Linked DNA regions of Homo sapiens. The protein of the gene in region 1 interacts with the protein of each later gene in a pairwise test. Each region holds a gene or a part of one and is shown in the gene's direction. Other genes may lie near its edges.

Region 1 (7,586 bases):
CTGAGCAGCATTCTCGGCTATCTGCCACCTGTCTGGGGCTCCTGGCCCCTCTTAGACTCCCCTCTCCCTTCTGTTTCCCCCGAGCCCCTGACTTGGACCTGCAGGGTGGGGAGAGGGATGGGACGAGAACCTGTGCTGGGGCCAAAGGTCGCACTGGGGGAAGGTGGAGCCAGGGCAGCAGAGTGCCTGGCGTCGGCCCCTATCCTGTCACTAGTTCCCCCGTTCTGGCCCCTGGCAGGTTTGTAACCCCAGATCAGAAGTACTCCATGGACAACACTCCCCACACGCCAACCCCGTTCAAGAACGCCCTGGAGAAGTACGGACCCCTGAAGCCCCTGGTACGTGGTGTGGTCGCTGCCGTGGATCTCTGCACAGTGGGATCCCTTCGGTTCATCCAACCATGTTCAGTCCACAGGACCCTTCCCTCTGAGGTCTCATTTGATTCTTTCTCCTGAGAAGATGCAGAGATCCTGATAATATAAATGGGGAAGCTGAGGCTGCTCTTTGTCACTTCCTCCGACTGCTCCTGAGCACCTGAGTTTGCAAGCACGCGCCGGCTGGTGCTAGAGACATGGTGGTATCCCGTGACACTCAGCCTCAGGATGGGGGAGACTGATGTGAAATACAAATAACTTAAACACTTTCAGGCAAAGATAAGCACTGGGCCTAGTTCAGAGAAGTGGCAAATTGCTACTCTGGCCTGTCTCTGACCAACTCCCAGTTCTCTACAGAGCACGGGAAAGCCCCTCGGGGACGTCTTTCCTGCAGTGTGCAGGCTGCCCTTCTCCCCTGCTCTTCCCAGTTGATGGGATGGTTGTGTTTTCTCTATGAAAAAAGGAGTTGGCACCTTGGGCTTTCTGAAACACACAGGTGTTTTAGAAATCAGTGGAGGGTGAGAGAAAGGCATGGTTGTGGAGGCACTGGACTGTGAACAAGGTCTGCAGCGGGTCCCCCTGCTGTCTCTCTCCACTGCATGGAGCCTCCTATGAAGCCCAAGGTGGCTGGGGGCTGAGGCTCCCTTGGGCCTGCCATGGAACTGATTCTGAGTCAAGCAGACTTTCCACGGACCATGCTACATGAGCCGAGGTGAGGCACTAGTTAGTGCTCCTTTCCTGTTGCAGTGGAGATTTGGCTCCTCTGTACTAAAATATCTGCATGCTCTCCAAACAGGTGTGAGGGCAAATCACATGACCTTGGCAGCTGTAATTAAAGTTTGTGGGGGCTTTTCGGATGACTTATGAGGAGTGGCTGTGATTCGCACCTTTCACTCTTAGTAGCACTCGCCCTCCCCTGTTCTCTGTTGCCTGAAGCTGGAGAGGTCCTTGGAACCCCGAGGCCTGAGAAAGGGAAATGGGTTTGAGAGCCCCCATTAGTGTGGAACAAAGGGTTGAGTGAGCCTGGGCTTTGAGCTGTCGGGGTCCTAATTCAGCAGCTGTGTGACTGTGTGCCAGGCTGTTGATCTCTGAGCTTCTGTTTCTACCTGCTTAAAATGACGGTTACTGCACAGGGCTGTGTGAGGGTTACAGTGCGTCTCTGGGCTGCTCCCAGCCATGGCAGGCCCCTGGGAATCAAGGTCATCAGCTGCTTGTCCAAGGCAGCAGTTAGTGGTTGTGAATGGTGCGTGTGAGATCTGCATCCTGGCGTCAGGCCTCCTTCCTGCCTTACCCAGGACAGCCCAGTTGCAGCTGGGTTGGTCCCACAGTCCCACACACACACAGCCCGAGTGTGGTGCCTCACGTGGGCTGCCCCGTGCCTACCCACAGCCACAGACCCCGCACCTGGAGGAGGACTTGAAGGAGGTGCTGCGTTCTGAGGCTGGCATCGAACTCATCATCGAGGACGACATCAGGCCCGAGAAGCAGAAGAGGAAGCCTGGGGTGAGTAGGGTAGGGGTGGGAGAGCCTGGGCAGGGGGAATTGGAGCCGTGGCATGGGGGAGGCGTCTGGGGACAGGTTGTAGAAAGTGAGGCGCTGGGGAGAATGGGGGCGTAGCATATCCCCTTTGCCCCCTTTCGCACGGTGGTTGTTGAGGAAACTGACAAGATAAGGACAGTGTCTCTGGGACCCTCCTCTGCTCTGCTTTGAAGGATTCACTTACTTATCCAGCATTGTGTTCGGACCCTGCTCAAGTTGGGCTGGGCTGGATGTGGTGGATGGAGCAGCAATTACGACCCAGACTGGATCTCCCCTTAGTGTTCAGGGGGCAGAGACAGATGCTAGACAGACACACCATGACTGAATTCACAGGGTACCAAGGGCCGCAGAAAGGGAGGTTCCAAAGGAATCTTTTGGGTGGAGGCGAGGCGGTCGGGATGAGCCAGCCAGGCCAGGCAGTGCCTGGCTGAGTGTCAAGCTGCATGAGCTGGGGGTGGGGGAGTGGGTTCAGGTGAGGTGGAGTCTGCAGGGGCTCCTGGGCAGGGGGGCAGGGAAGGGACTGTCCCAAGCCTCCGTTCTATGCCAGCCTCCCTCCCACTGCGTCGTTAGCTTTCATGACAGTGCGCGATCCCTTCGAGTCTCCTAGTGCTCCTTTTTCCCAGACTGCTCTCCTCAAGGGAGAGCTGGGAACGGTGGGATGTACAGGGTGTTAGGTAAGGAGGGGAGGTGGGCGGTCAGCCTGGGCGGGACTTGCCCGAGCTGGCACCCCATGTGCACGTGGAGAGAACTTGGCCTCTGGCCTCCAGGGTCCTCCCTGGCCTCTCCTTGGTGGGGATGGTTGTGAGCCATGGCAGCCCCTGCTGAGTGCACTGTTGGGTAGAGTGGGGATGTGACTCTCAGAGCCGCTCCCTGGTATCGGAGCAGGCCCTGGACCTGCTTCTGTGAGGTGCACGGTTAGGAATGGGGCGTTCCTTGATTGTATTAGGCATTGTAGAGGGGCTTGTCCTGAGGGGTTTGTGTTCCCATATTACTGGCCTGTGGGTGCTATTTTAGGTGTTACTGGGGTGATTCTCTGCTGGGCCTGTTTGAGGGGCTGTGTCTGGTCCATTCGGGGTGAGAACAGGTCACTTCGTGGTGGAGGTTCATGCTGTGTTCCTGCTCACTGTCGCAGCACCTGGCAGGATAGGGTCTACCTTGGGTACAGAGTCTAATGGGGCCATGGGGCCTAACTTTCCCAGCCACCCCATTCTTCTGACAGCAGATTCCCACTAGCTGGGCCTTGCTCCAAGTCTGCACTGCAGCAGGGCCTGGTTTTGTGACCATCCATGGCCATGACCATCCAGGTGCTGACCATGGGGAATCCAGACACTCACCCTAACCCCCTTCTATCTGCCAACCCCTAGCTGCGGCGGAGCCCCATCAAGAAAGTCCGGAAGTCTCTGGCTCTTGACATTGTGGATGAGGATGTGAAGCTGATGATGTCCACACTGCCCAAGTCTCTATCCTTGGTAAGGCTTCTGCTCCTTGGAACTGTTGAGTTTTGGAGAGGACCCTCAAGGTGGAGTTAGTGTAGTGACTCTCCAACTGGGCTTCTGGAACCCTGGGCTCTGCAGGGAGGGGCTATCAGGGAGGGTGGGTCCGGGCACCCACTCATGGCTTCAGTCAGCAGCTCTGCTTGTCTCTCACAGAAGGTTTTGTTTGGCAGAGTTGCGCGGCTAGGACATGTTTTAAAAACATGCATCTGGGTCTCCTGCGCTCTCCCAGAGAGGGTCAGTGATGTGTCTTTTTTTTTCTTTTTTTTTTTTTGAATTGGAATTTCGCTCTTGTTGCCCAGGCTGGAGTGCAATGGTGCCATCTCGGCTCACTGCAACCTCCGTCTCCCGAGTTCAAGTTGTTCTCCTGCCTCAGCCTCCCAAGTAGCTGGGATTACAGGCATGCATCACCACGCCCGGCTAATTTTGTATCTTTAGTAGAGACGGGGTTTCTCCATGTTGGTCAGGCTGGTCTCGAACTCCCCACCTCAGGTGATCTGCCTGCCTCGGCCTCCCAGAGTGCTGGGATTACAGGCGTGAGTCACCGTGCCCAGCCTAGTAATGTGTCTTAAGGTATAGCCAGGCACTTGGGCACATTAGTCCTGGGATGGGTGCTATACAGCCCCCAGGCCAGTGGACTTGCTGTGCCGGGTGCTACAGTGAGGTCGACCTCAGAAAGGGGGTTGTTGCCTGTGCAGAGCCTGGGTCCCCAGAAGCCAGGGTGTGCTGCTGATCCCTCTCTGCTCACAATGGGGTGAGTTGGCTTGCCCTGGCTCAGAGTGGGGAGGCGGTGAGAGGCATGGCGGCGTCATGAACAAAGGTTAAGGGTTGCCTGATCTTCCAAGTAGACTGCTGCCCTCACGGTCCTTGCAGAGAAACCTTGTCCTGGCTAGGGGTCTCTGACAGGCTGGGGACCTGCAGCCAGGTTACTGCAAAGAAAAAAACATCACCGCAGGGAGTGAAGAGCACAGATTGAGTCAGGTGGGCCTGGGTTTGAGTTATGACACCATCACTGCTCTCTGGGATCTTTCAGGTTCCCTGAGCCCCAGTTAAAAGCCTATAAAAGGGGTGCCAAGCCTAAGTCAGGAGGGCACAGTGCCAAGCAGAGCAGAGAGACTGGAAGGGCGTGGGAGGGGCTTTGTGCAACTCCGCTGTGCTTGGGGTTGAAGCTGCGTCTTTATGATGCTTGTGGATGTTTCTGGTCCCAGGAAAACTAGGAACAGCCTTGGCTCCTCCTGAGGCTTTATGTGACAAAGCCAACGTTATTGAGTATGTTATTACTGGATAATGCTCAGTGATACTCCACATTTATTGATTATGTTATTATGGCCTGGGGGCTGCACGGCACCCATCCCAGGGCTGATGTGCCCCCACGTACTTGACTGTGCCTCCAGACACACCACTGAATCAGGCTCTGAAACGCACACACGTTTCTTTACTTGATTACTTGATTTTTTTTTTTTAAGTAAGAAAGTTCTTTAGAACAAGATTAAGTTCTTTGCTTAATTTTTTTTTGAGACGGAGTCTGGCTCTGTCTCCCAGGCTGGAATGCAGTGGTGCAATCTCGGCTCACTGCAAGCTCCACCTCCTCCCAGGTTCGCACCATTCTTCTGCCTCAGCCTCCCAAGTAGCTGGGACAACAGGCGCCCACCACCACACCCAGCTAATTTTTGTGTTTTTAGTAGAGACGGGGTTTCACCCTGTTGACCAGGATGGTCTCGATCTCTTGACCTCGTGATCCGCCTGCCTCGGCCTCCCAAAGTGCTGGGATTACAGGCGTGAGCCACCGCTCCTGGCCCTTTGCTTAATCTTTTAAGTATAAAGTAAGCTTAAGCTCATGTAAACTCCCTATCTGAAAGCAGAAACTGAGGCTTGGAAAAGTGTGTATCCTCTTTCAGGTCTCAGCAGCCAGGTGGTGGTGCTGGGGTGGGATTGCGGGTTTTTTTCTTCCCTCTCACAGCTTCTCGCAAAATGGTGACTCCTTGACTTGGTTTTGGTTTCAGCCGACAACTGCCCCTTCAAACTCTTCCAGCCTCACCCTGTCAGGTATCAAAGAAGACAACAGCTTGCTCAACCAGGGCTTCTTGCAGGCCAAGCCCGAGAAGGCAGCAGTGGCCCAGAAGCCCCGAAGCCACTTCACGACACCTGCCCCTGTGAGTGCTGTGGCCATCTCTGGGGGTCCTGCAGTGCCCGCCTTCTTAGCTCAGGGCTGAGTGCTGGCCATCCCTGGGGGTCCTGCAGTGCCCGCCTTCTTAGCTCAGGGCCTTTGCATAGGCTGTTCCTCTGCCTGGGTGCTTTTCCTGCTACTTCCCGTGGCTGCATTTGCTTAACTTACTCTTCTGATTTCAGTCTCAATGCTGCTTCCTTAGGGGTAAGCCTTCTCTGACCCTACATTCTGTAGAGATACCCCCATTCTGCCATTCTCTCTTTTGTGGCCTGGGTTTCACTTGTAACTAAGTCATTATCCCTGTATTTGGTTTGCTTAGTACATGTCTGTCCTCAAGCAGGGGCTGGCTTCAGGCTGCTGACCCGTCTCACTGCTCCTTCTCACCCGCCTCCTGGCTGTGGCTTCTCCTCGAGGCTGGTGCTGCACGGGGCGGGCAGTGCATGGCCATGTCTCCTTGTCCAGCGTCCTACTTACAGTTGAGGAAGCCCACAGCCAGGAAGTGACTTGTCCAGGGTCACAGGGAATGTGGAGAGAGAATAAGAAGGCTCTGGCTTCTAGGGGAGGGAGGCTTATAACTCTACCCTTCCCTGGCCAGGATCACCAGGGTCTGTTGGGAACACATAGTCCCTGCCTGGATGGTAACCCTCTTGCCTCCTCCCAGATGTCCAGTGCCTGGAAGACGGTGGCCTGCGGGGGGACCAGGGACCAGCTTTTCATGCAGGAGAAAGCCCGGCAGCTCCTGGGCCGCCTGAAGCCCAGCCACACATCTCGGACCCTCATCTTGTCCTGAGGTGTTGAGGGTGTCACGAGCCCATTCTCATGTTTACAGGGGTTGTGGGGGCAGAGGGGGTCTGTGAATCTGAGAGTCATTCAGGTGACCTCCTGCAGGGAGCCTTCTGCCACCAGCCCCTCCCCAGACTCTCAGGTGGAGGCAACAGGGCCATGTGCTGCCCTGTTGCCGAGCCCAGCTGTGGGCGGCTCCTGGTGCTAACAACAAAGTTCCACTTCCAGGTCTGCCTGGTTCCCTCCCCAAGGCCACAGGGAGCTCCGTCAGCTTCTCCCAAGCCCACGTCAGGCCTGGCCTCATCTCAGACCCTGCTTAGGATGGGGGATGTGGCCAGGGGTGCTCCTGTGCTCACCCTCTCTTGGTGCATTTTTTTGGAAGAATAAAATTGCCTCTCTCTTTGTGCTGGTCTGGACTCTGCCTCTCTACTGGGCCCTGCTCATGGTTCCCTGGTGACCTAGGGGCCTCTTCTGGGATATAGGGACCTGAATGCTCATCCTCAGAGGCCAGCCTTATCGGCACAGCCCAGGCCTGAGCCCTTGACCCTGTTTCCACAGAGGGGCACAATGAGATGAGAGCAATTTCTCTCGTCTCTGCACCCAGTGGGCATCTCTGCAAAGCTCTGAGTATTAATAGCCATGGGGTTGGGCGGGGGTGGGCAGAGACTGGGGGCGGAGGAGGACGATGGGTTGGTGCAGTAGGGCCTTGCCTGGCCCTTGCCTTGGGTGGCTCACCTGCCCATTAACAAGCCCCTGCCTCAAGCTGAGCGTGGCCCCCAGGTCAGACCAGTAAGCAAGGAAGAGGGGTGAAGGCAGCTGGGCAGAACCCTCTAGCCCCATTGGCCAAGGCTGAGCAGGAGGCCAGGATGGGCCAGAGCCTCTGCCCTTGTGGCCCTAAATCCCTAGGGTTGTGGCTACAGAGCACAGTGCTTGGCAGGTGGTTGGGAAGAGTCACTGGGGATTGAAGAGGGGAAGATGCCAAGTCTGAGAATGTCTAAATGAGGAATTGATGTTTTCAGCAGCAGGCTTCATGGGACAGGCACATGAACATCCCTGTGGGCAGAGGTTGAGCAGACTTGGGGCAGGTCCTCACCTGGGGCAAGAGATGCGGCCAACTCTAGAGGGATGGGGACTGAGTTAATTAGGGTGCCAGAGTTCAGATGTGTCTGGCCTCAGACACACCCCTTTCTCCCTGCTGAGCTCCCGCCTACAGTCCCCCTACTCCTGTCC
Region 2 (8,652 bases), on another chromosome or scaffold:
CGCCCGCCTGCCCGCCCGCTCGGGCCTGGCCGGCGCGTCCCCGCGCGGGCGGGCGGGCGGCGGGCTGGGGTCCCCGCGTGGGGCCGGCCAGGCGGCCAGCGCGCCCCTCCCACCCGGCACGCCCCTCGCCGGTCGCCCTGCCAGGCCGCGCCCGCTCCCTGGCCCCGCACGCCTGCTGCCGTCCCGCCGCCTGCGCCTGGCTCCGCGGGTTCGAAACCCAGCCGGACCGGACCGGAGGGCGGGCGAGCGAGGGGCGGCGGCCCGGGGAACATGAGGTGGCGTGGAGTCTCGCCTTACTGGCACGCTGCCTTTCGAAATGCTCCCGCGTCTCCTCCCCCATCCCACCCGGTGACTCGGCCTCAGCTGACTCCGGCCGGGCAAAGTCTCCAGTGGCGTAGCGCGCAGCGCTCACCCGGCTCGTCTCAGAGCCCTGAAGTCCGCCCAAGTTTTGAGTCTTGCCATGAATGAGGTACTGAAAACTCGGAGACGAAATTCCTAATTTCCTCCCTCGGCCCTACAGTCTTTCCTTAGCTTCTTTCGGGACCTTAAGTGGTGGTCTGTAAAAGTGCCCAAATGAAAGCTTGTTTTGTCGGTTCACCAAAAAGGGCCTTGTCACTTTGCTGTGCATTTTAGTCCGCCTTGTGAGTTGTGTCGAAAAGTAAAGGTGTTTTGGCATCCTTTTGTTTCTTGGCGAGTGTAGGACCCAACCGGTTTAGGTGTTAGGGGGATCTCTGTGCAGCGGGAGCTTCTTGATTCCTTTCCTGTTTTATTTTTTCTTTTGCTTGTTCATTGGAAAAGGTCCAGTGAAAGGGACTGGTGAGTTGGAATTAGAAGCCTACTTGTATTAACGGCAGAATTCGTGTTCATTGCTAAAGATGCAGTCTCAGTAATGACTTTTTTTTTTTTAACGGATACAGATGATTTGTCAAGGGGAAAAATTAACACGCCATACAATGAAGAGCAAGCAGCTTCAGAGTAATTTTCTGATGGCTGATTCTTCTAGCCTGTCTCTTACAGTTCCAATTGCACATGTCCTCCCTCTTTAACGCTGGAAAACTGAGATGGAAAGAATGATCTGACCAGAAGAATGTAGGGTCCAAACAGGGCCTGGCCCTGAAATCAGGAATTTCTTCATAGAAATATCAGATTTTAATGTTTAAAAAATAATTTTGAATTGGGTGAAAGGAACTTTGTCTTTAGATAGTAGTTGTTCAAACATGTTTATGAAGTGTTTGCTATGTGCCAGGGATTGTAAAGTCATTTCACATATGTTACATCATTTATTAAGAATTGCCTTAAGCTTGTAAAATTATTCATTGATGTCCTGAATTCAGTAATTGCAGTTAATCTAGAAAATATGCCAGATTTGAGCAGAACATATTTGATCACCTAGGTATTACTGTTGAGAAGAAAACACTGGAAAATGGAGACTATTTTAGAAAAAACTTCGTATATGAGGATATTCTGGAATTCATTTATTTGCAAAAGAGGATTAGAAGTAGTCGTTGGCTACTTTCTGTTATTAAAAAATCCAGAGAAGAGTGATTTGAAGTCAGTTAATTTTGTAATAAAAAAATGCACACATTCTAAAGACTAATGTTAGCACTAAAAGTGTTGCAGTGCTTTACATAAATTCATTTAAAGCATCGTGAGAATCATAACTGACAAAATAGTAAGGTTTGCTGACTCAGGGTACTTTGCTGAAGGGGATGGGGGTCGGGTAGGAGGAAGCTTACAAGTGCTGCTGCAAGTTTTGAGTTGGATGATGACTCATGCTGCCCACGGACTGCTACGTGGCTTTTTTTTTTTTTTTTTTTAAATACACTGTATTTTTTTCTAAATGATAGGCTAAAATGTTCCTGTCCACATTGAAATTCTCTCTCATTTTTTCTGAAGAGGAACAGCAGTTTCTCTAAAAAAGTAATGGCTTCTTAAATTGCATTTTAAAAGGATATCATATACCCTACAGGTGGAATTGTGTAACATTTGCTGAGAGGAAAGGTAAAACCAATTTCTGGTCAGGTGCTGAAATTAAATGTTTGATACTAGCAGTTTTTTGGCTACTGCTGAGAGAGATTTGTTACAGGTTGTTTATAAAGGACAGATAGTACTTTTATGGTGTCGGTAGAAATTGACCTTATGTTTTTATTGGTTATGTGAAAGTTATCTTTATATTTAATATTTAATCAGATATGGCTCTGAATATGAAAGTTTCACTCAGAATTATTAAAACATAATTATATATTGTGCTTTGTGATTTATGTGAATTTTCTGTTTTAATAAAGACAATTTGAAATAGGTATTAGTCACTATTTTTCATGGTTTTTTTTTAAAGATAAGCTGAATGTACAGTTCTAAGTTGAAACTTGGTAATAAGATAAATCTTTTGACTGATTTTAAAACAGCCAACGTTTAGCAAGGTGGCTTAAAATAAGATTGAGAGGGGGAAAAAGATTGAGAATGGCAGTTTAAGAGTGGGGCTGGGTGCGTTGGCTCACACCTGTAATCCCGGCACTTTGGGAGCCTGAGGTGGAAGGATCGCTTGAGGCCAGGAGTTCAAGACCAGTCTGGGCAACATAACGAGACCCTGTCTCAATTTTTAAAATAAAAGAAAAAAAATTTCCCACCCCATCCTCTGGTTTTTCTGTGTATACTGTTTATTTTTCCAAAGGGATTTGAGGAGTTTGTGGACAGTAAAGTGTTTGTTGTTTTTGTGAGACAGGGTCTTGCTCTGTCACCCTGGCTGGAGTGTAGTGGTGCGATCACTGTTCACTGCAACCTCTACTTCCCGGGCTCAGGTGATCTTCCTGCCTCAGCCTCCGGAGGAGCTGGGACTACAGCTGTGTGCGACCATGCCTGGCTAGTTTTTCGTATTTTTTGTAGAGATGAATGTTCACAGTGTTGCCCAGGCTGTTCTTGAACTCCTGGGCTCAAGCAATCTGCCTGCCTCAGCCTTCCAGAGTGTTGGGATTACAGGTGTGAGCCCCTGCTCCCAGCCCATAAAATGTATTGTTAATGTGAATTAAATTTTTGGAACTATTTTGGAAGAGTATTGCATGATTTATACCTAGAGGTTTTTTTTTTACAAAGTTTAATTCAAACTTAAAAAAAATTTCCTACTAGAGGAAACATAAAAATACAAATATAAAAGTATTGAAAATTTTCAGAGCATCACATTACTTAGAGGTTTAACGTATTTTCGGCATTGTTTTCAAATATAGGTAATTAGCTGTAGTGCATAATTCAGAGTTTAAAAACAAACTGAGGCCGGGGGCAGTGGCTAACGCTTGTAATCCCAGCACTTTGGGAGGCTGAGGAGGCAGATCACGAGGTCAGGAAATCGAGACCATCCTGGCCAACATGGTGAAACCCCGTCTCTAATAAAATACAAAAATTAGCTGGGTGTGGTGGCACGTGCCTGTAATCCCAGCTACTCAGGAGGCTGAGGCAGGAGAATCGCTTGAACCCGGGAGGCAGAGGTTGCAGTGAGCCGAGATTGTGCCAGTGCACTCCAGCCTGGGTGACAGAGCGAGACTCCGTCTCAAAAAAAAAAAAAAAAAAAAAACCGAAAAACAAACAAAATAACTGGATATCTTAGCCTGCTTCCTGTCTCCAAGGTACTGCTTTATGAAATGCTGAGCCTTCTTACCACTGCTATCCAGTTCTTTGTTACATTTGAACCTTGTGTTACTCTAGGTCCCCTGTTAAAATGGAAAGAAGATGCCTCAGAAGTAAATTCTGTGTGGCATTGTTGGCTGCCTTCATTAGTTCCTTCAGCCTGTTTTGTGGGCTGTTGAACATTACACTACAACCTGCCAGTGGTGTGGGAATTTTGCTCATTTTTATTGCTGAGAGCCTTGACTGAGACTTCACAAAAACAACTCCAATGTTACTGTAGTTAATGGCATTTTCCAGGGGTTGCTTTCATGTGAAGCTGATGCTTTTAAGGTGACAGTGATTTGGGCCTAGTCCAGCATTGATTGGTTTTTTCACCTCCATGAACTGCGTATTTGGAAAATAATGTGTGTCTCTCTAAGAGTTTTTTTGTTTGTTTGTTTTTTGTTTTTGAGACGCTGTCTCCCTCTGTTGCCAGGCTGGAGCGCAGTCGCGCCATCTCGGCTCACTGCAACCTCCACCTCCTAGGTTCAAGCGATTCTTCAGCTTCAGCCTCCCGAGTAGCTGGGACTACAGGTGCGCACCACCATGACCAGCTAATTTTTGTATTTTTTTTAGTACAGACAGGGTTTCATTATGTTGGCCAGGATGGTCTCATCTCCTGACCTTGTGATCCGCCTGCCTGGGCCTCCCAAAGTGCTGGGATTACGGGCATGAGCCACCGCGCCCAGCCAATAGAGTTCTAAAAGTTTTGTCTTTTATACATGTCAGTCTTCTAAGTCCATTTCTAAAAAATTGTTCAGAGATTGAATGTTTGTATAGCAAATACAATTTCCCATTGATTTTCGTTAAATTTGGTATTTTTTTCACAGAAAAAAATGGTATCATAAAACTTGTTTTTTAGAATCCTAGCATTTACCTCAGAAAAGTCTGCCTCTGCAGAAAGTGCAAATCTGTATGCATTTAATTCTGTACAATCATAAAACTTTAAAATATTAGTGTTTTGGAGGGGTCATGGGCATTATCTTGCTTCATTCATGTACATCGTTTGACAGCTAAGGAAACCAAGGCCTGAAGAGATCTAAGATCTTGGTACTGAAAGTGTGATTTCTGGACCAACAGTATTAGCATCACCTGGGAACTTGATAGACGTTAGAATCTTGACTTCATCTCAGTCCTACGGTCCTACTGAATTAGAATCTTAGAATCTACTTTTTCTTTTTCTTTTTTTTTTTTTTTGGAGACGGAGTCTCACTCTGTCACCCAGGCTAGAGTGCAGTGGCACGATCTTGGCTCACTGCAAGCTCCGCCTCCTGGGTTCACGCCATTCTCTTGCCTCAGCCTCCTGAGTAGCTGGGACTACAGCTGCTGCCACCGCGCCTGGCTAATTTTTTGTGTTTTTAGTAGAGACGGGGTTTCACCGTGTTAGCCAGGATGGTCTCGATTTCCTGACCTTGTGATCCGCCCGCCTCGGATCCGCCCGCCCGCCCAGCACTCCCAAAGTGCTGGGATTACAGGTATGAGCCACCGCGCCCGGCCTTCTTTTTTTGTAAATAAGAGGCACAATCTTGCCCTGTTGCCCAGTTTGGATTGGAGTGTAGTGGTGTGATCATAACGCACTGCCACCTGGAACTCCTGGACTCAAGTAATCCTCTCACCTCAGTAGCTGGGACTACAGGCATGTGCCATCATACACTGCCTTTTTTTTTTTTTTTTTTTTTTTTAAGAATTGGAGTCTCACTGTGTTGCCCATGCTCGTCTCAAACTCCTGGCCTCCTAACGTGCTGGGAAGAACCTGCATTTTAACAAGATTTTCAAGTCATTCAGTGCGCATTCAGTTTGAGAAGCACTGCTAAACGATGCATACACCTGGGCAACATAGTGAGACCCTGTCTCTACAAAATAAAATAAAATTAGCCTGTTGTAGTGGTGCACACCTTTAGTCCCAGCTACTTATGAGGCTGAGATGAGAGGATTGCTTGAGCCCAGGAGGTTGAGGCTGCAGTGAGCCGTGATCGCACCGCAGCGTTCCAGCCTGGGCAACAGCAAGAGACCCTGTCTCAAAAAATACGTAAATAAATAAAAATTAAAATGATGCATACATGGTTGCTCAGCTCGTTAGTCTTCTGAGTTGCTCTTTCCACTGGCCCTTCTGAAAAAAGTCAAATGGAAAATTTGGAAGCTAATCACTGCCCAGTTGAACTTTCTATGATGATAGAAGTGTTCTGTGCTATCCAGTGAGGTAGCCATTGGCCATGTGTGACTGTTGAATACTTGACGAGCAAGTAGTGCACTTGAGGAATTGAATTTTTTATTTAATTTTAATTCCTTTAAATAGTTGGGGCTGGGCGCCGTGGCTCACGCCTGTAATGCCAGCACTTTGGGAGGCTGAGGCGGGCGGATCACGAGGTCAGGAGATCGAGACCATCCTAGCTAACATGGTGAAACCCTGTCTCTACTAAAAATACAAAAAATTAGCCGGGTGGCGGGCGCCTGTAGTCCCAGCTGCTTGGGAGGCTGAGGCAGGAGAATGGCATGAACCCAGGAGGCGGAGCTTGCAGTGAGCGCCACTGCACTCCAGTCTGGGTGACAGAGCAAGACTACGTCTCAAAAAAAAATAAAAATAGTTGGATGTAGCTGGTGGTTACATGGACAGCACAGATCTAGATGATCTTTGCCCACTCTAAAATCTAAGCTGTAATTTAATAACTGGTTAGACTCAGTTTAATAATTGTCCTTTCTTAATGTACAAATTGGAGAGAGAGTATGTTGACTTAGTTTTTCTAATATGCCCAGATATTATTTCAGTATGTATTATAAAACAGTGCTGATTTTCTAATTGATACATCTGTGTTCAATAAAGTAGATAATCTAAGTTGTAAGCAAGTCAGTTTCTTTCCATCTTAACAGGTATTTTCACTTGAATTTTTAAAAAGTAGCTATTAAGTTTTCCTTAGTTATCCTGTGGAAAGCATTGGCAGGATAGTTTTTGCCTCTGGCCTAGTCCCTCTAGGCTTGTTGGCACTTGTTGATTACTTCCAGATTGATCTGCTGTTTATGTTAATTCCAGGTACCGAAACAGTGGTTCTTAACCTCCTACCTTTTTTTGTTTTGTTGTTGTCGTTGTTTTGAGACGGAGTTTTGCTCTTATTGTTCAGGTTGGAGTGCAATGGTGTGATCTTCGCTCACTGCAGCCTCCGCCTCCTGGGTTCAAGTGATTCTCCTGCTGCAGCCTCCCAAGTAGCTGGGATTACAGGCATGCACCACCACGCCCAGCTAATTTTATGTTTTTAGTAGAGATGGGGTTTCAACCATGTTGGCCAGGCTGGTCTTGAACTCCTGACCTCAAGTGATCCACCCGTCTCGGCCTCCCAAAGTGCAGGGATTACAGGCGTGAGCCACCGTGCCTGGCCTTAACCTCCCACCTTATGCAGTGGGAAGATTCTAACCCTATAGTCACAGGCCTATGTCCAAATCTTGGCATTTACTGTGTGTGTAAAGAGCATCAGTGCTCTTGTTTGTAAAATGACATTTACAAGACTGTAGTTTGAGATGAGAGAAATAATTTGTCATTTAGAAAATGCCTGTCATGGCTGGGCGCGATGGCTCATGCCTGTAATCTCAGCACTTTGGGAGGCCGAGGCAGGCGGATCACAAAGTCAGGAGTTCTAGACTAGCCTGGCCAACATGATGAAAACCCGTCTTTACTAAAATACAAAAAATTAGCTGAGTATGGTGGTGCATACCTGTACTCCCAGCTACTCTGAAGGCCCAGGCAGGAGAATCGCTTGAACCCAGGAGGCGGAGGTTGCAGTGAGCCGAGATCACACCATTGCACTCCAGCCTGGGCGACAGAGCAATACTCTGTCTTGAAAAAAGAAAATGCCTGTCACAGCCGGGCGCGGTGGCTAATGCCTGTAATCCCAGGACTTTGGGAGGCCGAGGCGGGCGGATCACAAGGTCAGGAGTTCAAGACCAGCCTGGCCAGCGTGGTGAAACCCCATCTCTACTAAAAATACGAAAAAACTGGCCATGGTAGCGTATGCCTGTAATCCCAGCTACTCGGGAGGCTGAGACAGAAAAATTGCTTGAACCCAGCAGGCGGAGCTTGCAGTGAGCCGAGATCGTGCCACTGTACTCCAGGCTGGGTGACAGAGCGAGACTCCCTCTCAAAAAAAAAAAAAAAAAAAGAAAATGCCTGTCACATAATAGGTCCTTAGTAGATGTAAGTTACCTACCCTCCCCCTCCTGCTTGGATTTTATAGCCCTCTGTAATTGAGTTTTATGCTTAAGATTCCAATCAGGCTTAATACATATTCTGAGTCTTCATCTCTACCCGTTACTGTAATTTCATGCCTTGCTTTGTTCATGTTGTATCCCATGTAGATTGTGCCATTTGTGCTCTGGATGTCTTCTCTTGACTTTTTTTTTAATCTTAATTTTTTTTTTTTTTTTTATAGGCGGGGTCTCCCTGTGTTGCCCAGGCTGGGCTCAAGCAATCATCCTGACTCGGCCTCAAAAAGTGCTGGGATTACAGGCATGAGCCACTCTGCTCAGCCTGTTGATTTCTCTTTATTTATTTATTTATTTATTTATTTATTTACTGTTTTTTGAGATGGAGTCTCACTCTGTTGGCCAGGTTGGAGTGCAGTGGCACGATCTTGGCTCACTGCAGCCTCTGCGTCCCAGATTCAGGTGATTCTTCTGCCTCAGCCTCTTGAGTAGTTGGGACTGCAGGTGCCCACCACCACGCCCGGCTAATTTTTGTATTTTTTTTTTTTTTTTTTTTTTTTGAGACGGAGTCTCGCTCTGTTGCCCAGGCGGAGTGCAGTGGTGCGATCTCAGCTCACTGCAAGCTCTGCCTCCCAGGTTCACGCCATTCTTCTGCCTCAGCTTTCCGAGTAGCTGGGACTACAGGCGCCTGCCACCACGCCCGGCTAATTTTTTGTATTTTTAGTAGAGACAGGGTTTCACCGTGTTAGCCAGGATGGTCTCGATCTCCTGACCTTGTGATCCGCCCGCCTCGGCCTCCCAAAG
Region 3 (8,652 bases), on another chromosome or scaffold:
TCCAAGAAGTAGAAGTGCCAGTTAGTATGGTAATAATGTATATGTAGACACATTGCTTTTTCAAATAAGATTAAAAATTGCAGAAATGTAAACATGAAGTCATTACTCATTTAATTTGACTTCCCAGAGATAACCACCATTAACATTTGGTGTGGATCTATTTTCAGGCCTTTTTCTCTATGGATTTAGGAAAAATTTTAGTGAAGTCTGTGGTTTCATATTTTTTTATATTACACATATCTCTGCAACTTTAATTTTTCTCCTTTATATTTCTTGAAAGTCTTTTGAAGTCATCTATAGAGATTAAACTCCAGCCTGCCCCCCCTCCAACACACACACACACACACACACACACACACACACACACACACACTCACATCTATCCCTTCTGCAGGTTGGTAACATTGGAGCTTTGTAATTTACCTGCCAAGGGACTTTGGGAATTTATTCCTTGGTTCATTCAAAATAAATAAGTCAATTTGACTGAGTGCATGCCATATGCAAGGCTCTGGGGAAACTAAGCTGCTTATGACCTGAGCTTAGAGTCCAGTGAGGAAGCCTGGAGTATGCATTTGTCATGGTGGTAAAATCGTGCAGTGGCAGCATGGATGTTGCTATGGAAGCAGAGGAAGGAATCTCAATAAGGCCAAGGGTGTCATGGTCACTGACAAATTATTGCATAGACTGAGGTTCAAATCCTGGTATCTGTGCTGAACGTGGAGGCTCACATCTGTAATCTCAACACTTTGGGAGGCTGAGGTAGGAGGGTCATTTGAGCATAGGAGTTCAAGATTGGCTTGGACAAAATAGCAAGACCTCATCTCTACCAAAAAAAAAATTAGCCACTCATGGTAGTGCTACTCAGGAGGCTGAGGTGGGAGGCTTGCTTGAGCCAGGAGTTTGAGGCTTCAGTGAACCATGATCACACCACCGCCCTCCAGCTTGGGTAACAAAGCTAGACCCTGTCTCTAAAAAAATAAAAAATAAGAATTCTAGTATCTGTCCCTTGTTAACTGAGACCTCGGGTAAATCCTTAACTTCTGTCTCAGTGCAAGCTGGGTGTAATAATACCTACCCCACAATGCCAGCATGATTATTCATTGGAAAAATGATTATAGGAGAGGAGTATTGAATGTCCATTAGTATATGTCTGCTTAAGTAAATAAATCGTGGCATATTAATTAATACAATATTATGCAGCTATGAGAAATGAGATCATTCCATGTGTTCTGATAAGGTCTAACTCGGACATATGTTATTAATAGAAAAGTGTGTGTTTTGCTACGATTTATGGGAAAAACTTTTTAAAGATGGGATGGTAGATAGTCTAGGTAAATACAAGTATGTATATAGCTATCTGAAAGGATATCCAAGTAACTTCATAGTGCTTGCCTTTGAGGAAGGGAACTGGGATCAGGAGTAGGGAGAAAGTTTGCTTTCCATTTATACTCATTTATGCTGCTTAAATTACCATATACATTTATTATATGTAAAGAAGAGTTTTTAAATCAGGAATAAAATAAAGTGTGTCATTAAGGCAATATCAACTTAATCTAGCTATTCAAATATTTTTACATGGGACTTTTCACAATCTTTTCATGAAGTAGTTATAAGCATGGACTTGTAGGTGTGCTTACTGGCTATAGAATCTTGGAAAAGTCAGTTAATCACACTAGACCTCCCTTTTCTTCTATAAAATAAGAATTAATAATAGCCACCTTATTAAGGGTGTTGTGAAAATAAGATAACAAAATTGAGTGGAAAACAGTTAACATGGTGCGTAGCATATTATAAGCACTCAAATATTTGTTGTGTAATAATTAATACTAAAGGTCTGTATCTATCAGTGGTATTAATAATAATCTAATTCAGCTGCCTTATACCAAAAAGGGATATTTGTGGGCTCACACAAATGAAAGTCTGTGGCATGTGTGCCTTTGGGTATGGCTGTATCTAGCACCTCCCTTGAAGGGATTGGGACTCAGCCTTTCCCCAGCTCTTCTGTGTTGGCTCACTTCCCAAGTAGCTCCAGGCTCGCACCCTACTGGCCTAATAATGCCCAGTGAAAAGAACCCAGTACTTTCCCAGTGGTTCCCAAGAAAAATCCCAGGATTGACTGACCCTTCCTGCATTGGTCATGGTCTCATCTTTACCCCAGACACTTGAGCCTTGGGATTGAGGCCAGGATTCAGTACTCACCTCTGCAACTTTGATGGGAAGAGTCGTCCTAATGTTGATCAGTCTCAAGTCTTGTCTTTTCATGCTTGGAGACTAATAGAAACTAAGAACATCAGTAGAGCTCCTTCCCCAGTGGAAAAAAAATAGGGGCAACAAATATCAGGCAGGCAGACTATAGATGTTCCCCACTGGCTCCAGTGGTAATTCTTTTGGGGTTTTGTGGTTTTTTTTCGTTTTGAGAGAGAGAGATGGGAGACTTGCTGTGCTGCCCAGGTTGGTCTCAAACTCCTGGGCCCAAGTGATCCTCTTGCCTCAGTCTCCCAAGTACCTGGGACTACAGGCGCATTACCATTGCACCCAGCTCTAACTACATACATTTTCCTACATAGATTTTCAGAACTGCTTACCAGTACAACTGTTTCTTTGCAGAGGCATGTTAACGTCCATGGGGCTGAGGTTTTAACGTTAGCACATACCTTGTTTATAGTACAAGTTACCCTTGAAAGTACTGCCGGAAGGTGCCACATGGAGTTCCACACAGAATCTCACAGAGCCAGGCTTTACCACTGCTTGGAACCAAATGGCCCATCCTTCTGTTGATTACTGGATAAGTTGGCTGTTTTACTGGTAGGGGCCATGTAATGTAAAGATCTGTGCATAAACAATGAATACCTCTCCAATCAGTACGATGCTCACGCTGTGAACTAACAAAAATTGAGATGACCAAGAGAAGAGATTTCCATCTACCCTGGTGCTCAGCCCAGGGCAGGGTGGTGTAGACAGAGCTCACCCGCACTATTTAAATCCTGTCATATAGTTTTTTGTTTTACCAGGCATGTGTGCTTGAATTTGCTAAGTTAAGCATTAAAATAATGCTGCTCCATCAAATATCAAAATTCTTAGCCCTTTTTCAAGAGATTCTAATTATTGCACCCATGTTCAGATCTGAGACCAAACAGGTAATATGTGGTCCCCACAAATCCAGTTCCGCCCTCCCTGTTCACTCAACAGGGGAGGAAAAATAACAGGATAACCCAACGGGAACCTCCCTTCTGAAAAGGGGAAATGACATAAAGTGCTCACCTCCTGCTTCTTGTCATGTCCTCCACAGGGACAGCAGTTTGTAGAGCCTATAAGTCCACCCCAAGTTCCACCTCCTGGGAGGAATTCTGGGGCTGCCCCTTCTTCACACCTCACTTATTTCTGGCGTGGCTTTTGGACCTAGTGATTGATTTCCTTAGAGGTTCAACATCATGGACCTTCACTTTCTAGACTTAGTGATTCTTTCGCAATAAAAGTGCCTTGCAATTTTAGTAGCTTGTCCATCTAGCATTCAAATTTGGTCAATTTATGGTTTGGTGCTTAGTAACGAGAGTTACACATGAAGACTAGTCCCGGTCTTTCGAAGTTAAGTCTCAGTCACTTAGCAGCAGACATGGAAATTTCCCTAACCTACAGTTTAATGGTTCCATAGGCCTTTGCCTCATGGCAGTCTGAAACAGCAGCCTGGGAGGGAGAGATAAAACTAGTATGCCCCCAGCCTGCTGACCAGTGGGTGGTTCTTTACTGCTGAGGCACGGCCCTAGGTCCCTAGGAGTTCTGGGTCCCAGACTCTTTTCCAAGTTTGCCTTCTTTCTGTTCACTTTATTTTCATTTTTTGAGACAAGAGTCTTTCTCTGTCATCCAGGCTGGATTGCGGAGGCACCAACCTCCACCTCCCAGGTTCAAGCAATTCTCATGCCCCAGCCTCCCAAGTAACTGGAACTACAGGTGCATGCTACCATGCTGGGCTACTTTTTGTATTTTTAGTAGAGTTAGGGTTTCACCAGGCTGGTCTCAAACTCCTGACCTCAGGTGATCTGCCTACCTCGGCCTCTCAAAGTGCTGGGATTACAGGCGTGAGCCATTGTGCCCAGCCCATTTGTTGACTTTAATTTGGGCAGAGAATACAGCTCTATGTCTCCTTAGATTGCTTTCTGTAGAGAAGGCCTCCATAGCAAAGCTGTTTTCTTTGAGGCGGGCCAGCCTCAGATGAAGTTTCTCTCTATCTGTAGTATCTTCCTGGCGGTCACAAGAAGTGACCAACACACTCTGCCACTCTCTAACAAGGCCTGCCAACTCCCTGTCACACCATAGCCATCTTGACTCAGCCAGTTCCATAAGCTGTCACTGGCAACAGCACAATTCTAGGTTCCCGACTCAAAACACTTGAAGCAGCTGGGCACGGTGGCTCACGCCTGTAATCCCAGCACTTGAGGAGGCCGAGGAAGGCGGATCACGAGGTCAGGAGATCAAGAAGATCCTGGCTAACATGGTGAAACCCCGTCTCTACTAAAACTACAAAAAATTAGCCGGGCGTGGTGGCGGACGCCTGTAGTCCCAGCTACTCGAGAGGCTGAGGCAGGAGAATGGCATGAACCCGGGAGGCGGAGCTTGCAATAAGTTGAAATTGCACCACTGCACTCCAGCCTGGGTGACAGAGCGAGACTCCGGGTCTCAAAAAAAAAAAATGCTTTAAGCAAAAAGGAGAGTTTATTGGCTAATGTAACTGGAAAGTCTGGGAAAGACCAACAGTTGCCCCCAGGGCATGACCAGAGCCAGAGTTTTGAGTGGTGGTCTCAGACCCCTCTCTCTCCTTCTCTCCACTCTGCTTTCCCCTGGGAAGGCCCCATTCTCAGGCAGCTTTAGGCTCCTCACTTACCAACCTTACTGGAAAGACATACCTGCTTCTTGCCAGATAGTTCCAGAAACATTCCTGGGGTTAGCCTTTGCTCCTCCAGCCTTGGTCATAAGCCATTCAACCTGTTCGCGGTGGGGGCGGGGAGGGCAGGATGGGCCACAATGATTAGCCAGGCCTGGATCACCTGTGTGCACAGATGCGCTTAGACCAGGAAAGGGATGGCTCCCCAAGGAACAAACAGGGAGCTTCTGCCTGATAAAGAGTGAATGTTTGCTGGACCAACCACAGCAGGCCCACACAAGGACTTGACAGAATGGCTGGGAGGGGAAGATGAAGTCCAGCAAGCAGATTGTCCTTCCGGAGCCATTAGAATGATGTTTAACTTAGCACTGCAGTAGAAAGATAAGGTGTGCCACTGAGGCAAGCCACATCGTAAAATATATATATAAAGAAACAGATGAAATAATTTTAATGCTACATCTGACCCATTAACAACATTGGGGTTAGAGGTGCCCTGACACAGTCAAAAATTTAGATAGATCTTTTGACTCCCCTAAACTTAACTAATAGCCTGTTGTTTGGGGTTTTCATTATTATTTTAGTGATGGGGGGTCTTGCTACGTTGATCAGGCTGGTCTTGAACTCTTGGCCTCAAGTCATCCTCCTGAGTAGCTGGGATTACAGGTGTGATCCATGCACCCAGCCCTAATAGCCTACTGTTGACTAGAAGCCTTACCAATAACATAAACAGTCATTAACACATTTCATATGGTATATGTATTATATACTGTATTCTTACAATGAAGTTAGAGAGGAAATGTTATCAATAAAAGAAAGTTTGGAATGAATGAAAGTGGAATCCACAGGATAGATTTCCCTCATCAGCCAAGCAGGACTAGAGGTGAGGGTGTGTGAAATAGGCCGTGCTGGGCAGAGCTGGGCTTTGCCTGAGTGTCTTACTCTTTTCCCTTATGATCTAAAGCCAGGTTTCTCCAACTTTAAGGTGTATCAGAATCACCTGGAAGGCCTGTTAGATTGCTCAGCCCCATTCCCAGAGTTTCTGATCCAATGCATCTTAGGTATGCTCTGGAATTTGCGTTTCCTAGCAGCTGAACTTGGTCCAGGGTTCAAAGTGTAGAAGGCATATGGGCATATAAAGCAGCTGGATGAAAAAAAAATCATAAGGAAGAGAAAATAGATTTACTATTCATTACTGGAAGTGGATCATCATAAAATTCATCCTCGTTATCTTCACATTGAGGAAGGTGTGGTGAAAGAAAAGAGGAGGGGTTGGTCTTACTGTCTCAGGGATGACAGAGGAAGAAGAAAACCCACATATAGGTGGACACACTCATGGCCGGGTGCAGTGGCTCACGGCTGTAATCCCAGCACTTTGGGAGGATGAGGCAGGAGGATCACTTGAGCCCAAGAGTTCAACACCAGCCTGGGCAACATACAGAGGCCCCATCTCTACCCAAAAAAAAAAAAATTTAAATTAGCCAGACATCATGGTGTGCACCTGTGGTCCCATCTACTCAGGAGGCTGAGATGGGAGGATTCCTTGAGCCTGGGAGGACAAGGTTGCAGTGAGCTGAGATCACACCACTGCACTCCAGCCTGGGCGGCAGAGCAAGACCCTGTCTCTAAAAAAATAAAATCAGTGGAAACGGACAGTCCAAACCCATGTTGTTCAAGGGTCAGTTGTATTTTATTTATTTCATTTAACATGTGATCACTACTAAAATTGTTGAGATATTTTACCCTGTTTTGTACTAAGTCTTCGAAATTCAGTGTGTATTTTACAATTATAGCACATGTCAGTTTGGATGAGCTAGTAACCAGTGGCTATCGTAGTAGACGGTGCAGGGTTAGCTGGTAACTTTCCATAGAGGGGCTGAATATCTAGCTTCCGCTGATAAGTTATTACTTACGTTTTCACATCACGGGGAGTTGTTTTGAAATTGCAACTCTCGGCTGGGTACAGTGGCTCACGCCTGTAATCCCATCACTTTGGGAGGCCAAGGTGGGCAGATCACCAAAGATCAGGACTTCGAGACCAGCCTGGCCAACATGGCGAAACCCCGTCTCTACTAAAAATACAAAAATTAGCTGGGAGTGGTGGCGTGCACCTGCAGTCCCAGCTACTTGGGGAGGGCTGAGGCAGGAGAATCACTTGAACTCAGAGGCAGAGGTTGCAGTGAGCCAAGATCGCGCCACTCCACTCCAGCCTGGGCGACAGAGCAAGACTCTGTCTTAAAAAAAAGAAACTGCAAATCTCCTCATTAGAAGAATCTGCCTGAAAATGAGCCTAAATACATATTTTTGTGCTGAGTGTCCAGTTGGTGCCATTTATTTTCTAAAACACCTGTCATACCCATACAATTAGTACTTAACAACTGCTTAACCATCTATCTTTTCTCTTGGACTCGAAGCCCCTTATCTATCTTGCTTACTAAGCCCAATGCCTAGGTACCTAGAAGACGCTATGTGGATATTTTAAAATTTAATTGGAGTTAAATTAAAAACTTAGATAAGGGCTTCTCATTTGCTAGGCTTGATAAGAAAATGGAGAAAGTAATAGTGGTTGAAGCCCAAGATTGCATGTTTGCAGTATTTGTTTTCCCGATGAAGGGCCGTTTGTAGTCTGTGACTAGTTGTGTTACGATCCAATCACCCTTTCTCTCATTGAATATACAGTATATAGAGAGAGTGATTGAAAATCTACAGAAACCCAGGCTCTGTGCCAAGCACTGGGTATACAAAGATAAATGGGAAACAGTCCCTGCCTTAAAGGAAATGAGAAACAGATAAGTCTTACAGTAATACCGAATAAGTGTCATGATACAAATAAACACAGAGTGTTTGGGGAGCACAAGGAAGGGGGTCCAACCCAGGTCGGAGAATGGGAGATGGGCAGGAAAGACTCACTGTGGAAAGGGAATTTAAGCCCCACGGCGCCTGTGATATTCTTAGCATCCAACCCCATGCCAGGCACATGATGTGTTGAATCAATGAACAAAGTGACTCCTGAACCTAATGCTGAAGGATCGCTGTGTTTGTCCATCTGGGTGTGGACGGATGATCACGGCAGGTGAAGAGAGTGTGCATGACAACCCAGCCTACAACGCTAGAATCCTGGCTCTAGGGAATGACAAGATGCTGAGTGGGGTGGAGCAGAGGGGTGAGAGCTGGCATGAGCCTGCAGCATTTGGCAGGCCAGCCCACAAACTGCCTCCCTTCTTGTTCTTGTCCATATGACCGGTGACGAGAGATCGCACTTTCTTATTACAGGCAAAGCGAAGGCTGGAGCTAGGAGAAAGCGGTCATCAGTACCTCTCAGATGGTTTAAAAACCCCCAAGGGCAAAGGAAGAGCTGCACTACGAAGTCCAGATAGTCCAAAAAGTAAGGATCTTTTCATCTCTTTCCTTATTCTCCTTGGTATGGCATTTCCAAGTTTCAAAGCTTATGGCCGGAAGGATGCCAAGGTGTGAATAATTCTGGCATGTTTTGTTCTTTTTCATTTCTTTCTGTGCTTATCCAAAAAAATAAATACAATGTCAGCAGACAACCAGTGAAAGGCTACAGAGTCACACTGGTACCATAAGGGAAGACTTCTTTTAACTGTATGTAGTTTCATTTTTCAACTCGGAATACGAACTTTTGGCACCATTCTATATCAAATTTAATTTTAACTTCCCTTAATGGACATTGCTTCAGAGTCTGAGGCAAACTGGATGTCCACGAACTATGCCAGAGTCACCAGTGTCTGTGCCGACCTCAATCTCCAGCTCAG
Region 4 (5,599 bases), on another chromosome or scaffold:
AATTCTGTGACATCACTCTGTTGCTTGACGGGCACCCACGGCCAGCCCACAAGGCTATCCTGGCCGCCCGCTCCAGGTGGGTGGGGGCTGGACAGGAGGGGAGGGTGGGCCTGGATGGTGTCTTCGTTCTGCTGACGGCCAGGTGCCTACCGCTCGTTGTCTGCAGCTACTTTGAAGCCATGTTCCGGTCCTTCATGCCCGAAGATGGGCAGGTGAACATCTCCATCGGGGAGATGGTGCCCAGCAGGCAGGCCTTCGAGTCCATGCTGCGCTACATCTACTACGGCGAGGTCAACATGCCGCCCGAGGACTCGCTGCATCCTCACTCCCCAGTGAACTCCCAGGTCCCCACCAAGGGGTCCTGGCACCCACCTCAGGTGGCTTTGAGGCCCGCTCTCCTGCCCCAGCTAGGTGATCTGGGCCCAGCGCCTCCCTCCAGAGGGTTTGCTGGTGCCTGGGGCTGGGCCTGGTGCTCTCTGAAGCAGTTGGCAGCTGGCAAGGAGGGGTTTGCAGCCAGGAGGAACCAGTGGGTTCCTGACCCTCACAACTGCCCAGAGGACGGGGTGGGTCATTGCTTTGTGTGACAGTTGAGCACAGACATGGAGGTACTCCTTATGTCACTTCAGTAGGGGTCTGAACATGGAGGGTCAGGATGCCTGTTAGGCCTGCAAGGCCATGGAACAGCGCTACAGATGTACAGACACTATTTTTCTCGGGAGGGGATTCATGGTTTTCTTTGGATCCTGAATGGGGCCTTTGACCCACTAAGTAGTTCAGAATCCATTTGGAGAGCATGCTGGCGTGGGGGCTTGGGGCTCCAGCTGCGCCCTTCCCTGTCCTTCCCTGGGAGGGTGCGGGCGGACCAGCTTCCTTTAGTCAGCTCCTTAACCAGGCCCCAGCTACTTGTTTGCGGCCCCCTACTACTACGGCTTCTACAACAACCGGCTGCAGGCGTACTGCAAGCAGAACCTGGAGATGAACGTGACGGTGCAGAACGTGCTGCAGGTAGCCCCCCAGCCCCGTGCACATGGCTGCAGCTCCCACTGAGTGGGTGAAAGGGGCAGCGCCTCAAGGTCCCTGCCATTGCAGATCCTGGAGGCAGCTGACAAAACGCAGGCACTGGACATGAAGCGGCACTGCCTGCACATCATTGTGCACCAGTTCACCAAGGTCAGGGCTCTGGCCTCCCCTTCAGGACTCGCTTCCCCTTGGCAGTGGCCATGCCCAGGCAGGGAGGGTGCCCAGGCTCTGTGGTCCCCTGCAGTGGTGGGCCCTGGGGGTGAGAGAAGCAGAGCAGCCCATCACTGGCCGCACCTTGCTTCATCCTTGGGACCAGCCTGAGCCCTGAGCAGGGTAGGCCCCACAGGGCTCCACTGCCCACCATGGCCCTTAGGTGGATCTGGTCCCATCTCCTTCCGGCCTGCTTGCCTTACAGGTCTCCAAGTTGCCCACCCTGCGGTCGCTGAGCCAGCAGCTGCTGCTGGACATCATAGACTCCCTGGCCTCCCACATCTCAGACAAGCAGTGCGCAGAGCTGGGCGCCGACATCTGAGGCCCTGTGGCGCCTGCCCATTGTGAAGAATCGCCGTGCCTGCCTGCCCTGCCTACTGAGAAGACTACCGGCTATGCGCATGCCTATGGCAGTGGGTGCACCTGCCAGGCCAAGGGTCAGGGTGCCCAGAGCCTCCAAAGAGAGCTGAGGGGATGTGGGGCCCCAAACTCATTAATTCACTGAAGACACAGGTCCCACAGGGAGCGGATGATGAAGCAGACCCCCTCCTGTCATCACCCTCTCCTGGTGTAGTGTGGATGCGAGGCCACGGCTCAGTGATGGGCTCACCACCCAGAAGTGGGGAGAGACTTTGGGCCTCCCACCCAGTGGGGCTTGGCCTGGCTTCTGTGGCCTGGGCGTGTTGTGGACTCAGGCACTGGGGCCTGTCACCAAGGCTCCTCCAACATGCGGGAGGAGGCTTAGCAGACTTGCGCTGCACCAGCGAATCTGCCTGGGCTGCTCCTGTCCCACCCACCCTCACTGAGATCCATGTAAGGGGCTCCTCTTCCCACCTGGAACTTGTGAGTGGGGACCCATGATGTATGGGTCTCACCTGACTTGAGGTGAATTTTGGAGTGAAGGGCCCTGAGGTCAGCTCCCAGGTCGGTCGTGCTGGGCCAGGCCTGGTTTTCACAGGGGCTGAAGGATCCCAGTCCACCTGTGTGCATGTCAGGGCTCGGCCGGGAAGAAGCCAGCAAAGTCCCCCGTGTCCCTTGCTGAGTATTCTGTCACAGACAAGCCTCCATTAAAGCCACAGCAGTGCTACCCACCACACACACCTTGCTGGCCCGGCCACCACTGCTGGCTTCAGCCCCTTGAGCAGCCCATGGCTTAGCAGACCCCCAGATGTAGGTCAGTGGCCTTACCTGTCTCTATCCATGCTGTCAACTCCTGCCTCCACCTGGGGTCACCCAGTCACATTGGGAAGGGCTGTGAAGGCCTCCAGGCTGGCCCCTTCCAGGGGAATCCTGGAGGCCTGGGGTGGGCTCCTGCCCCTTCTGCCCTGCCTTGCCCCTGCACTATGCTCTTGGCTCCTGTGGAAGGAGGGCTGCCCTCTTGCCCTAGTGAGGGCCCCATGTGGATCCACTCTAGTGCTGGGAGCCAGCGCTCCCTTACTGGGAACAGGATTCCAGGACCCCTTTCTTGTTGTGGCTGCCATGAAGCCACAGCTCCTTGGGGAAGTGACCTGCTCTCCTTTGGGTGTATGCAGGTGTGTGGGGGGCCCTGAGTGGCAAGTTGCTTAGCTAACAGGAGATCCATAGGCAGCCTGCAGGCTAGGAAGTGGCCTAGTGCAAGATGAGCTGGGAACAAGGGAGGAGAGAGCAGGAGCTGGGGCAGAGGCTGAGCCGGGAGGCCCTTGAGGTGAGGACACAGCAGGCCCAGGACCATGGCTGGGGAGGATATGTCAGCACCTGGAAGTGGAGTGCAGGCTGCAGCGCCCAGCCATGTGGGCCAGGTGCATTCACTCAGAGTGGGGCCACACACCCATCTACCCAGTTTCCACAAGATGTGGCTCCTGCCACACCCACAGGGCAGCCTCCTCCAAATCCCTCCTGGAGGGGCCTACCCAGAAGCCTCCTTGAACCAGTCTGCAACCCTGCTCTATGCTGACCCTTGTCACTGAACCCTGATCTAGACTTATATGAATAAATGAAATTACATGCCAAGGGCCCTAAAAAGCAAATTTTACGAAATTGTGTGGCAGTTTCTGGGACTAGAATGAATTTCATTTGTGCTCCTCGGCAGGGAGAGGCCATACTTGCAGTGAGTCACCCCAAGACGGAGCTGTTTGAGAACTGCAGCTGCAGCAAGGCCTTCCAGGTTCCTGGGAGTTGAAGGAAAAGGATGCTGAGGCCAGGACCTGAGTGCTTGTCTCCATGTTCTGGCCACCTCTTCCTAGATTTCCAGGGACTAGCTTGTTGGGGCTTTACTACCTGCTGACATGACCCAGGAGGTTGATGATTGTCATCATCATCCCCGTTTTTCAAATAGAGATGGTAGTGAAGGGGGCGGGGAGAGGGTTGTCCAGCTTACCCACCAGGCTGATGGGGCCTGTGGACAGAAGCCTGTCATGCTCCTGCTTGAGAACCGGATCTAGACTGGGTTTTAGAAGTGTTCTCAAAGGGGCTGGCTGGTTTAAGTCAGGGCTGTTTCAGATCCTATGGAAAGGGCGCCTGGAGCTGTCTTCCTGGCCCCTACTCACACCATCCTGCCCCTTCAGAGAACCCTGTGGGGCACGGAGCTGCGCTAGCAGGGCTGACTGCCACCTGTCTACCAGTAGCTCTGAGGGGTGAGAGCCAGGCTCCCTGTTCTCCTTGGCAAAGAGCTTGGACTGAGCCCTCTAGGAGCTGCAGCCACTGTCTGGGGCAGCAAGCTTAGTACTCAGAGGGGCTCCAGCCCCCAGCTGAGCCAGACAGCAGGCCCTCCGTCTAGAATCCGCTTTATTATGGCACCTGGTGGGTCTGGTGGGATCTGAGGGAGGAAGAGGCTGCAGTCTTGCTGGGCAGCCCCTCGGTCAGTCCAGCAGCCCCTCAGGCCATGCTGCTGCTCAGCTGCATGGCAAAGTCCTGCACATGCTCCTTCAGAGTCTGGCGGGCATCTGCCTGTGCCCGCTTCTCCCGTGCCCGCTCCTGCTGCAGCTTGGTCAGTCTCAACCGCAGCCGCTGCTCCCGCCGCTTGCAGGCCTGCAGCTGGCGCTGGGCCTTGTCAAGGGCATCAAGGGCTGCCTCGGCTCGCCGCTTCCAGAGTAAGGCGCTGCCCACCTGGTAGCTGTGTTCATTCTGGATGTAGGCTCCGGCGGGTGGGGGCAGGCGCAGCATATACGCTGAGGGGGAGACTGGCCGTGGTTCGAGAGGGGAGGGCTGCCGCTCTGGTGAAGGCTGGGCGCTGCAGCCTGCTTCATCTGCCTGGGCACCCAAGGGGCCCAGTAGGTCTGAAAAGGGGCTGCTAAGGCCAGGCTCCAGCCTCCCAGCTGGGGAGGCCGGCAAAGTGGCAGGTGCTGAGGCCTCTTCCACAGGAAAGCAGGTGACATCAGCAGGTGGAGGTGGAGAAAATGGAGTTGTGGGCCCTCGGCCCTCGGAGCAGCTGGTAAGGGGGAAGAGAGAGACTGATGGGCTAGGCTGAGGGCTTGCCAGACCCCCCTCCACCAGCCCACCTGATCCACCCTTAACACCCAAACCCGATCCACAGGTTCTGTGTAGCAAGAACCCTGTCCAGCGAGACTGCTGGCAGACACCCCTAGGGCCCAGTCCCTCAGCCTAGGGGTGGGAGTGGGGCATCCCCCACCCATATCACATACCGCTTCCTGCATCGTCTGAGCCGGCTGACTTCAGCGGGGCCAGGTGGGTAACTGTGTCCTTTGGTCTTGGTTGTCCGGCGCAACTTGGAGAAAGACTCAAATATGGTGGGGACTGCCCCCTCCTTTAGCCTGTGATATCCACTGCGGGGAAAAGCAACCCAGATGAGCTGGAGAGCAAGTGCTGCCTCCCCAGGCCAATCTGCCCCCAGCAGCAGCGCCGTGGGATGCTGGAAGGCATCGTGCAAACAATACGTCTGGGGAACGCCAAGTTACAGCTACACCAATCGCTTCCCCGCAGGACTCCTCACAGTCCAGGTGTGTGGAAAGCCTGCATAAGCCGAGCTGGGCTGACCAGCCAGAAAGAATTCTTTGATTTGTGGACTTGCTGGCAAGACTGGGGCTCTGAAAGATACTCTCTGGAAAGGCTCCTGTTTTCCCCTTGTGTCACAGGCACAGTGATCCTGGGGGTGGGTTTCACTGTGCAGAGCTGGGAACAGGAAACAGCCCCCTTGGACGCAGGCTGCTCAAGGGACTTCCATGACCTGCAGCTGTCCCAGTCCGCCGGGAGCCCCACATCCTACCCCAGCGTCGGCCGGCAGGGAGGCCCACCTGATTCCCACCAGCTCAAAGCAGTCCTCCTCAAAGTGTTTGGAGCAGAAGTAGATGTACTCGGATGCCGGGTCCCACAGGCCCTGGCCGCTGGGGTCCAGCCGCTGGCAGTTGGCCAGCCACAAGCCTCGCCTCGGGTT

Evidence for each region.
Region 2: the proteins of MYBL2 (region 1) and MAPK6 interact in a two-hybrid assay, tested with the Homo sapiens proteins (one large-scale study listed by BioGRID and IntAct).
Region 3: the proteins of MYBL2 (region 1) and E2F3 interact in a two-hybrid assay, tested with the Homo sapiens proteins (one study listed by BioGRID).
Region 4: the proteins of MYBL2 (region 1) and LZTR1 interact in a two-hybrid assay, tested with the Homo sapiens proteins (one large-scale study listed by BioGRID and IntAct).

The regions. Positions count from the first base shown.
Region 1 is NC_000020.11:43,709,725-43,717,310, forward strand, and holds the end of MYBL2 (myb-related protein B), read left to right. Parts: intron 1-238; coding exon 239-338; intron 339-1,763; coding exon 1,764-1,877; intron 1,878-3,277; coding exon 3,278-3,382; intron 3,383-5,409; coding exon 5,410-5,559; intron 5,560-6,234; coding exon 6,235-6,363; 3' UTR 6,364-6,758; downstream 6,759-7,586. UniProt on the Homo sapiens protein: Transcription factor involved in the regulation of cell survival, proliferation, and differentiation. Transactivates the expression of the CLU gene.
Region 2 is NC_000015.10:52,019,564-52,028,215, forward strand, and holds part of MAPK6 (mitogen-activated protein kinase 6), read left to right. Parts: exon of another isoform or gene 1-2,001; intron 2,002-8,075; exon of another isoform or gene 8,076-8,310; intron 8,311-8,652. UniProt on the Homo sapiens protein: Atypical MAPK protein. Phosphorylates microtubule-associated protein 2 (MAP2) and MAPKAPK5.
Region 3 is NC_000006.12:20,471,697-20,480,348, forward strand, and holds part of E2F3 (transcription factor E2F3), read left to right. Parts: intron 1-8,149; coding exon 8,150-8,261; intron 8,262-8,652.
Region 4 is NC_000022.11:20,995,797-21,001,395, forward strand, and holds the end of LZTR1 (leucine-zipper-like transcriptional regulator 1), read left to right. Parts: coding exon 1-76; intron 77-166; coding exon 167-316; intron 317-899; coding exon 900-1,005; intron 1,006-1,089; coding exon 1,090-1,170; intron 1,171-1,435; coding exon 1,436-1,552; 3' UTR 1,553-3,236; downstream 3,237-5,599. Other genes in the region: THAP7 (THAP domain-containing protein 7), read right to left, coding at 4,084-4,636, 4,851-4,991, 5,460-5,599. UniProt on the Homo sapiens protein: Substrate-specific adapter of a BCR (BTB-CUL3-RBX1) E3 ubiquitin-protein ligase complex that mediates ubiquitination of Ras (K-Ras/KRAS, N-Ras/NRAS and H-Ras/HRAS).